Regions from separate parts of the Homo sapiens genome. Here region 1 is linked to region 2. The links come from fine-mapping of genetic effects on gene expression. A gene starts in region 2. The other region holds a variant in brackets. All regions are shown on one strand. Distances are from middle to middle. Region 1 overlaps VPS53 (VPS53 subunit of GARP complex). Region 2 holds the start of VPS53 (VPS53 subunit of GARP complex).

What was found. PIP is the estimated chance that this variant, and not a neighbour inherited with it, causes the effect.
Region 1: its variant is fine-mapped to the expression of VPS53 in whole blood (TOPMed, PIP above 0.99).

The regions. Positions count from the first base shown.
Region 1 is chr17:525,873-530,872 of GRCh38, forward strand. All of the region lies in intron 19 of VPS53 (VPS53 subunit of GARP complex), which reads right to left. The region is part of intron 1 of VPS53-AS1 (VPS53 antisense RNA 1); the gene reads left to right. Among named protein-coding and RNA genes, the nearest start is that of VPS53-AS1, 5.6 kb to the left of the region's middle. The variant C/T (reference allele first, on the strand shown) is at 2,669.
Region 2 is chr17:712,806-717,805 of GRCh38, forward strand. VPS53 (VPS53 subunit of GARP complex) reads right to left here and starts at 2,034. Exons shown (of 22, transcript NM_001128159.3): 1 at 1,818-2,034. The coding sequence starts at 1,904. RefSeq lists an enhancer at 2,506-2,575.

The DNA of each region.
Region 1 (5,000 bases), 190 kb before region 2:
TGTAATCCCAGCTACTCGGGAGGCTGAGGCAGGAGAATTGCTTGAACTCGGGAGGTGAAGGTTGCAGTGAGCCGAGATCGCGCCATTGTACTCCAGACTGGGCAACACGGTGAGACATTTTCTCAAAAAAAAAAAAAAAAAAAAAAAAGATGTAAAGTAAATGTGGAAACATGTTACATATTTTGCTGAGCTGAGTAGTTAGTTACTGTTTTTTACATTATTTTCTGTACATTAATTAACTGGAATTTTTGTTTAAAGACTACCATTCAGGACTCAACTCTGTCTTCCATGTAGCAAATTTTGAGAGCCTTGTCAAAATCAAAGCCATGTCTTAGCATTCATTTGTTGGTAGGAAAAAAAAAATCAGTCATTATATTTTAAAGCATATGGAGATATTTCCTACTTTTCTACTTCCCAGAGATACATTATATGCATAAATAATTGTACAGTCTTAAATGACAGGAAGGGTTTGAATGCACCAGGCATAATTCTCTAGTGTCCCTCATATACAGGGAGATATGACACTTTCATTCCCTGGCCAGTCACCATAAAATTCTGTCTTTACCAGACACTGAGAGGTGAAAACCCTGGTCTCAGGTTTTATACATAAAGCAAGGCAGTCAGAAAAGGCGGGAATGAGCCTGACAGATTTGGCGGCTGTCTGTGCAAAGACAAGACAGAAAGGTCCCATTTATCATGAAAATCTGCTAGTTTTCAACTTTGAAATAGTTGATAATTCATCTTCTTAGGCATGAGACATTGGGCAAGGGGTGGCTATTGCCACATTCATTTCTGCCTCAGCGATAATTTCTGGGGCAGTGTGGGCTGGCTAATGTTGTTGATGGGATGTGGGGGTGCAAGGGTGGCCAGTATGCCATGCCTGTGAAGGCTGATCACCCAGCAATGGAAATCTTTGAGAGGGGCCCTTTACTTCCCGAGGAGCCTCCTACAATTCTTGGGGACATGATGACTATCAACAGTGATGAAAATTTTGCGTAAATAAGATACAGGCCCACACTCCTAGAAGACAAAGAACCATGTGAACAAAACCACATAGGTGAACCATATTGGTCCCACCATAGAAAATTCTTCAATGAGGTGGCACAGGGGAGACAGCTCAGGCTATCAGGAGGGATGGAACAAGGTGGACACATGTTCTATTTCTTTTTCTTTTTAAAAAAATTAGGTATAACTTTCACAGAGTACACAAACACCACGTATGCCATTTGATCAACATCCAGACATGTGCACATCCTGCTGCCTAACGGAAGACAGAGCACACTTCTGGCATCCCTGAAGCCTTCCTCATGCTCTCGTCCAGTCAATGCTCTCCTTTCCCTCTCAACAAACTCTCCTGCTGTCTCTCACTGTAGCTAGTTGCCTGCTCATAAACCTGCTCTGAACATTCGTCTCTCCTACTCTCTCTCACTGTAGCTAGTTGCCTGCTTCATAAACTTGCTGTGAACATTCGTCTCTCCTGCTCTCTCTCACTGTAGCTTGTTTCCTGCTCATAAACCTGCTGTGAACATTCGTGCGCATGCCTTTGGTGGTCATAAAGTCCTCATTTCTCTAGGGTGGAAGCTACTCAAGAGTAGAACTGCTGGATCATGGGGTAGGCATATGTTTGGCTAACTGCCTAGGAGTTTTCCAATGTGGCTGGGCTAACTTCCATTTCTACCAGCACATATGAAAGTTCCAGATGCTCCACATCCTTACCAACACTTGGTATCATCACTCTTTTAAATTATTATTATGATTAGAGACAGGGTCTTACTCTGTCACCTGGGCTGGAATGCAGTGGTGCAATCATAGCTCACTGCAACCTTGAACTCCTTGGCTCAACTGATCCTCCTGTCTCAGCTTCCCGAGTGGCTAGGACTACAGGCACGTGCCACACTTGGCTAATTTTTAAATTGTTTTGTAGAGATGGGGTCTCGCTGTGTTGCCCAGGCTGATCTCAAACTGCTGAGCTCAAGCAGTCTTCCTGCCACAGCCTCCCAGAGTGCTAGGATTACAGGCACAAGCCATCGCACTTGGCCAAAGTCTTTTAAGTACTCAAAATAACCAATCTTTTCTTTTATGGTTAGTGCTTTTAATGTTTTGTTTAAGGGATCTTTGCCTAACCCAAGGTCATAAACATATTGTCTTATATTAAATCTTCCAGAAGCTTTATTGCCTTATTTTTTAGAGCCATAATCCATCTGGGATTAATTTTCTAAAAATGGAGATATAATTCAAAAACCATAAAATTTACCTTTTGGAAGTGTACAATTCAGTGGTTTTTAAGGTCTATTCACAAGGTTGTACAGCTGTCAGCATTATCTGGTTTCAGAACACATTATCACCCCAGAAAGAAACCCTTACCCATTAGCAGCCATTCCCATCTCCCCCTCCCTCAGCCTTTGCCAACCATTAATCCACTTTCTGTTTTACGGATTTGCCTGTTCTGGACATTTCACAGAAGCAGAGTCACACAATAGGTGGCTTTTTGTGTCTGGCTTCTTTCACTTAACATGGTTTCAAGGCTCTTCCATGTTGTAGCATGAATGGGTACTTTATTCCTTTTAATGGCTGAGTAATATTCCCTTGTATGGATAGACCACATTTTGTTTATCATCAGCTGATGGACATTTGAGTTGTTTCTACTTTCTGGCTATTATAAATGGTG[C/T]TGCTATGAATATTTGTGTACAAGCTTTTGTGTGAACACATTTTTTTTTCAATTCTTTTTTTTTTTTTTTTTTTTGAGACAGAGTCTCACCCTGTCACCCAGCCTGAAGGTACAGTGGCGCAATCTTGGCTCACTGCAATCTCTGCCTCCCAGGTTCAAGTGATTCTCCTGCCTCAGCTTCCCGAGTAGCTGGAGTTACAGGTGCACACCACCATGTACAGCTAATTTTTGTATTTTTAGTAGAAGTGGGTTTTCACCATGTTGGCCAGGCTGGTCTCGAACTCCTGACCTCAGGTGATCTGCCTGCCTCAGCCTCCCAAAGTGCTGGGATTACAGGTGTGAACCATGCACCCTGCCTTTTTCAATTCATTTGGGTATATATCTAGGAGTATAATTGCTGGGCCCTGTGGTAACTCTATGTAAATGCCAAACTGTTTTCCAAAATGGCTGTACCGTTTTGCATTACCACCAGCAATGTATGAGTGTTCTAATTTCACCAAATCCTCTTTGGAATTGATTTTTATATATGGTGTGTGGCAAAGGTCAAGATTTTTTTCCGATATGGATATCCAATTACCCAGCACTATTTACTGAAAAGACTCTCTTTGAATGATGCCACTTTGGTCATAAATCAAGTATCTACACATGTGTGGGTCTATCCCTCAGCTCAGATCTGTTCTGTTGGCCTCTTTGTCCCTGGGGCCAGTGCCACACTGCTCTAATTACAATACTGCTGCAATAAGTCTTGATATCCTGAGCTTTAACTCCTCCAATTCTGTTCTAAGATTATTTTGGCTGTTGTCTTCTGTATTTTCATCTAACTTTTAAAATCAGCATATCAATTCACACACACACACTCACACACACACACACACACACACACCCCTGCTGGGATTCTACTGTATCTATAGATAAATTGATACAGTAATTAGGATTGAATTCTATCTATAGATTAATTTTGGAATAATTTGCCGCTTTTTAAATTGTTATTTATTTTTTATTGGGCAGCCTCCTCAGCCAGAGCAGGCTCAGAAAGACTCCATATGTATTTCTTTTTGAGTCTTTCTTATCAATGAACATGAGCTATCCTGTCATTTTAAAGGTCTTTATGGATTCTGTGTCTTAATATTGTACAGTTTTCTGTGTAGAAGACTTGTACATTTTTAATTTACTCCTAGGTATTTAATGTTTCCTGATGTTATTGTAAATGATTTCATTTAGGCCTGGGAGCCATGGCTCACGCCTGTAATCGCACCACTTTGGGAGGCTGAGGAGGGTGGAGTTTGAGACCAGCCTGGGAGACACAGGGAGGCAGACCCTATATCTACCAAAAAAAAAAAAAAAGAGCCAGCCAGGCATGGTAGTACATTCCTGTAGTCCCAGATACTTGAGAAGTTGAGGCAGGAGGATGGCTTGAGCCCACGAATTGAGACTGCAGTGAGCTATGATTGTGCCACTGTACTCACTCCAGCCTGGGCAATACAGCAAAAAAAAAAAGTATTTCACTCAAAAATGTTCATTTTTAAATTGTTTGCTGCTGGTATATAGAAATATATTTTAAAACACTTTCCTTATAGCCAGCAACCTTGCTAAATTTATATTCTTTTTTTTTTTTTTTTTTTGAGACGGAGTCTCTATCACTCAGGCTGGAGTGCAGTGGCGCAATCTCAGCTCACTGCAACCTCCCAGGTTCAAGCAGTTCTCCCAGGTTCAAGCAATTCTCCTGCCTCAGCCTCTCGAGCAGCTGGGATTACAGGCGCACCACACCTTGCCCAGCTAATTTTTGTATTTTTAGTAGAGACGGGGGTTTCACTGTGTTGGTCAGGCTGGTCTTTAACTCTTGACCTTGTGATCCGCCCGCCTCGGCCTCCCAAAGTGTTGGGATTAAGGGTGTAAGCCACTGCACCCGGCCTGCTAAATTTATATTCTAACAGTTTATCTGTAGATCCTTTTAGATTTATTACTCATAATCATATTTTCCATGAAAAATGACAGCTTAGTTTCCTCCTTTCTAATCTGTATATATTTTGTTTCTTTTAAAAATATTGTATTTTTTGCCTTGTTGTCCTAGCCAGGACTTCAACAACAACGTGGGATAGAAATGGTGACAGCGGACATTCTCCTCTTATCCTTAATCTCAAGGGAAAGAAAAGCTTTCATAGGTGAACGCAGTCATAAGAATAATTAGTGACCCTGCAAAACAGGATGATCTGAAGATCATAAACTAGCAAGAAGCATGATCAATATTGGTGTGGGTCAGTTCCACGTGCCCTTGCAATTGCTCGAGGACTCTGGGGCCCAAAGATAAAGAACTCACTTTATATAGTACTCA
Region 2 (5,000 bases):
AAATAGCAAAAATGTGCTTTTCTGATACCTGTCAACCAAACAGTAACTGACTGCATTATTCTTTTCTTCCATGAGAGCCCACTAGTCCAAAGAGCAACAGAAATGTTATGTCTTTTTCTGGCAAAAGGAGGTAAGTGGTGGAGCCGTGTGGCCGGAACACTAAAAGCTTCCTGCCCAATGGTTTGGCGTTCTCAGGCTAGGACAAAGTTGGTTGTATAAGTAATCCAACCACTACTGGAAAAACACACATCGAAGCGTCAATGAATGCACCTGTAGTCCCAGCTACTCGGGAGGCTGAGGCAGGGTTATCACTTGAGCCCCAGGAGTTCGAGGCTGCAGTGAGCTACGATTATGCCACTGTACTCCAGCCTGGACAACAGAGCAAGACCCTATCTCAAAAAAAAAAAGTTTCCCAGGGGTCATTAAATAAGGCATAATGGAATTGTCCATTTCCTCAATCATAAATCCCTTTCTTAAATCATATAACTTCATGACAATTCCTTTAAGGGAGATTTTCTCCGTTTATCAGGAGCAATACCCTGCAGTATTAGAAATCACTATTTCTGACCGGGTGCAGTGGCTCACACCTGTAATCCCAGCACTTTGGGAGGCCGAGGCGGGCGGATAGCCTGAGGTCAGGAGTTCAAGACCAGCCTGGCCAACATGGTGAAACCCGGTCTCTACTAAAAATACAAAAATTAGCTAGGCATGGTAGCGGTTGCCTGTAGTCCCAGCTACTCAGGAGGCTGAGGCAGGAGAATCACTTGAACCTGGAAGCGGAGGTTGCAGTGAGCCGAGATGGCACCCCTACACTCCAACCTGGGCGAAAGAGCGAGACTCCGTCTCAGAAAACAAAAAAAAAGAAAAAAAGAAAAGAAAAAAATCACTATTTCTAATATCATTAGCCTTAAAAACTCAATAAACTTGCAAAGGCAAGAGTTCCTGCAGGCAGGGCCGCGCGTGGTGGCTCACGCCTGTAATCCCAGCACTTTGGGAGGCCAAGGCGGGCGGGTTACTTGAGCTCAGGAGTTCGAGACCATCCTGGCCAAAACGGTGAAACCCCCGTCTTTACCCCAAAAAAAAAAAAAAATTAGCCGGGTGTGGTGGCGTGCGCCTGTAATCACAGCTACTCAGGAGGCTGAGACAGGAGAATCGCTTGAACTCGGGAGGCGGAGGTCGCAGTGAGCCGAGATCGTGCCGTTGCACTCCAGCCCGGGCGACAGAGCGAGAATCCGTCTCAAAAAAAAAAAAAAAAAAAAGTTCCTGAAGGGAAAAGAGGCCCCTTGGGAGTATTCTCCAACCTCACCCAAACTATTCAACGGTAGGAATTCTCAACCTTTTAAGAATGGTAACGATGTCATTTTTCAACACTTTCTCTCTTCTCTGCCGTCCGCTTCAGAAATTAAAGTCATTCCCTTCCCCCAGTTCCAAGCCACTCACGAGGTGCCAGCTTGCAAAACCGGGGCGTTGGCACGAGTCTGGTAAATGCATGAAGCCCCCACAGTCCCCAGAATCTGAGGATGGCACCCAAGGCCTGCATTCTCCTAGCGTCGTCCTCTCTAAGCGCACAATTCCTTTCCCCAAAACCACCAGAACCCCCAGCCCTCGCCAAAGACAATCAAAGCCTAGAAAGGGTTCTCTTTCCTTTCCTTCTGATTCAGAAACCGCTTCTCACCCGCACCACCTCCCCACCTCCACTTTCCCTTCTGCCGCGAGCCCCCGGCCCTCCGTCCACCCGCCGCGGCCTCCCCAGCGCCCGGAGCTGCCGTCTCCCCTCCCGCACTCCCGTTTCCCCTCCTGAGGGGCGGAACGCTTACCTGCTCGATGGCCAGCTGCACCTCGGGCGTGAGCTGCAGCACGGCTTCCAGCTCCTCCACGAACTCCAGTTCCTCCTCCTCCATCATTCCGCCACCCGGCCCCCTGCCGACCCCCGCCGCGAGCCCAACTCAGGCCTCCAGCCGCCACCCAGGCCCCAGCACAGCAACTCCCTCGCGGCAGCGACCTGGTGAGCCCGGCTCCGTCAGCCGCTCTGTCAGCCGCTCCGGCACTTCCGGCAGGCCAGGGCACTTCCGGGACCGGGGAACTGTGGGATCACGGCGGACTGAGACTGGCGGCGTTCCTGTCACGTCAGGTGTCTCCCGGGCAACGCAGTATCCCGGCGGCCCCGCGTGGCCTCAGCGCGTCCTTAGGATGGGCGGGGCCTCTTCCCTCCCCAAGGCGCGCCCCGCACTGAGGACCCCGAGGTTGGGGTAGGGTCTGGCCTCCAGCAGGACGCCCGGATGAAAGTCAGCCCTGCGGCGTCGCCAACCGCAGCCCACAGCCTCCGCGGGCAGCGCAGCGGCGACCTCTCAGCTCCCGGGGCCCCCTCGGTCAGTGGCAGCGGGTGTCCCCGGCCACGGGGGCGACGTGATCCCAGCTGGCGAGTGGCGATGTCGCCAAGGACATTCGTAGGACGGGACAGTGCCCACTCGATAGAAATTCCCCGTGCGCCGGGCTCTGCGCAGAAGCTTTTCGAGGTGACTGCAGCCTCCTTATGGGGAGAAACGTCTTTTTTTTTTTTTTTTTTTTTTTTGAGACGGAGTCTTACTTGTTGCCCAGGCTGGAGTGCAACGGCGCGATCTCGGCTCACTGCAACCCCGCCTGCTGGGTTCAAGCGATTCTCCTGTCTCAGCCTCCCGAGTAGCTGGGATTACAGGCGCCCGCCACCACGCCCAGCTAATTTTTGTATTTTTAGTGGAGACGAGGTTTCACCATGTTGGCCAGGCTGGTCTCGAACTCTTGACCTCGTGATCCGCCCGCCTCGGCCTCCCAAAGTGCTGGGATGACAGGCGTGAGCTACTGCGCCCGGCCAGAAACGTTTTTTTAAAGCCAGATGACGCAGCGCCCTGGAGCTGGGGAGACGTTTACTGAGGTTGAATATCCGGGATCTAAGTCCTGAATAGTCCACCATTGATAAGTTGTGTGACTTGGAACAAATTACTACCCCGCGTCGATGTGGAGAGGATTAAACATTAACAGCGCGATGTAAATTCAAGCTGGTAATACAGGAAATAGTGAGGTGCCCAGCCCTTACCCCCACAAAGGAACAAATAAGCCAGATCACCGATCACCCTGTGAAACCACCTTTCCTGCAGACACTGAAAAGAAGGAGGGAATTGCAGCCCAAGGAGGACCCGCTCCACCAGGTGAACCGGGAAACTCCAGGAGGGAAACGCGTTGGCCCCACTGAACTTTTTTTTGTTGTTGTTATCAGAGTTGCTCAAAGTAAAAAATAGGAGCAGTATGATTTTTTCTTTTATTTTTAATTGACAAATAATAATTATATAAACAATGTAATTTCTAACAACAAAGGAATGCTAAAAAATATACATTAAAAAAAGAAAAAAAAGACAAAATAAAATATACATTGAACCTGGTGCAGTGGCACAGGCCTGCAGCCCCAGCTACTCAGGAGGCTGAGGCAGGGAATTATTGACTTTCTGAGATTGAATATCAGGGGTCTAGATCTCATCCCACCACTGAGGATCGCTTGAGCCCAGGAGTTTGAGGCTGCAGTGAGGAATGATTCCTTTGCGCCACTGCACTCCAGCCTGGGCCACAAAGGGAGACTCTGTCTCTTAAGTAAACATAGAATATTATTGATTCATAAAATCATGATTTTGAAAATTAATGACATGAAAAATATGCACAATATATTTCAGAAAGCAAAATGTATAATTTCATTTAAAAAATGCATAGCATGGTCCCAGCTTTGTGTGTATTCTGTGCCAATAAAGCTCACAGCAAGGAAATATTACTTTTCTGCACGTGATGAATGTACATCCTTTGTACATTTTCCCAAATGTCTACAATGAGCCTGTAGTTCTCTCATGCTCAGAAAATATGAATGCCTTTTTCTAAAAGGAAAAGGTAATTATAGCTACTTATTTTGGACTTTTTTTTTCCTTTAAAAAATTAAGATATTTACATACAGTAAAATTTACTCTTGCAATTTATGATGCAGTGAGTTTTGATAAATGTGTATAAACGACTGGGCATGGTGACTCACGCCTATAATCCCAGCACGTGGGGAGGCCGAGGCTGCCAGATCACTTGAGGTCAGGGGTTCGAGACCAGCCTGGCCAACATGGTAAAACCCGTCTCTATCTACTAAAAATACAAAACGTAGCTGGCCGTGGTGGTGCACAGAATCACTTGAACCCGAGAGGTGGAGGTTGCAGTGAGCCAAGATTGCACCATTGCACTCCAGCCTGGGTGACAGAGCAAGACTCCATCTCAAAACAAACAAACAAATAATAAGAAAACAATAATAAAACAAAATAAATAAATGTATATAACCATGTAACTACTACCACAATCTAGTTATAGGACAATTTCATTCCCCCAAATTCCCTCTTGCCTCACCCCATCCACTGGCAACCACTGACTTGATTTCTGTCCCTATAGTTTTTGTTTTTGTTTTTGTTTTTTTGAGACGGAGTCTCGCTCTATCACCCAGGCTGGAGTGCAGTGGTGCAATCTCAGCTCACTGCAACCTCCGCCTCCCGGGTTCAAGCGATTCTCCTGCCTCAGCCTCCTGAGTAGCTGGGATGACAGGCACGTGCCACCACACCTGGCTAATTTTTGTATTTTTAGTAGAGACAGGGTTTCATCATGTTGCCCAGGATGGTCTCAAACTCCTGACCTCAGGTGATCTGCCAGCATCAGGCTCCCAAAGTGCTGGGGTTACAGGCATGAGCCACCACGCCTGGCCTGTCCCTATAGTTTTGATATTTCCAGAATATCATATAGATGGAATCATACAGTATGACACCTTTTCAGTCTGGCTTCTTTCATCTGTCATAAAGTATCTAAAATTCATCCATGTTGTTGCATGTATCTGTGGTTCATGTCTTCTTGCTGGTATTCCACTAGATGAATACACCACTATTTGTTTATCTAGTCCCTGGTTGAAGGACATATGGGTTTTTCCAGTTTTTGGCAATTATGAATAAAGCTGC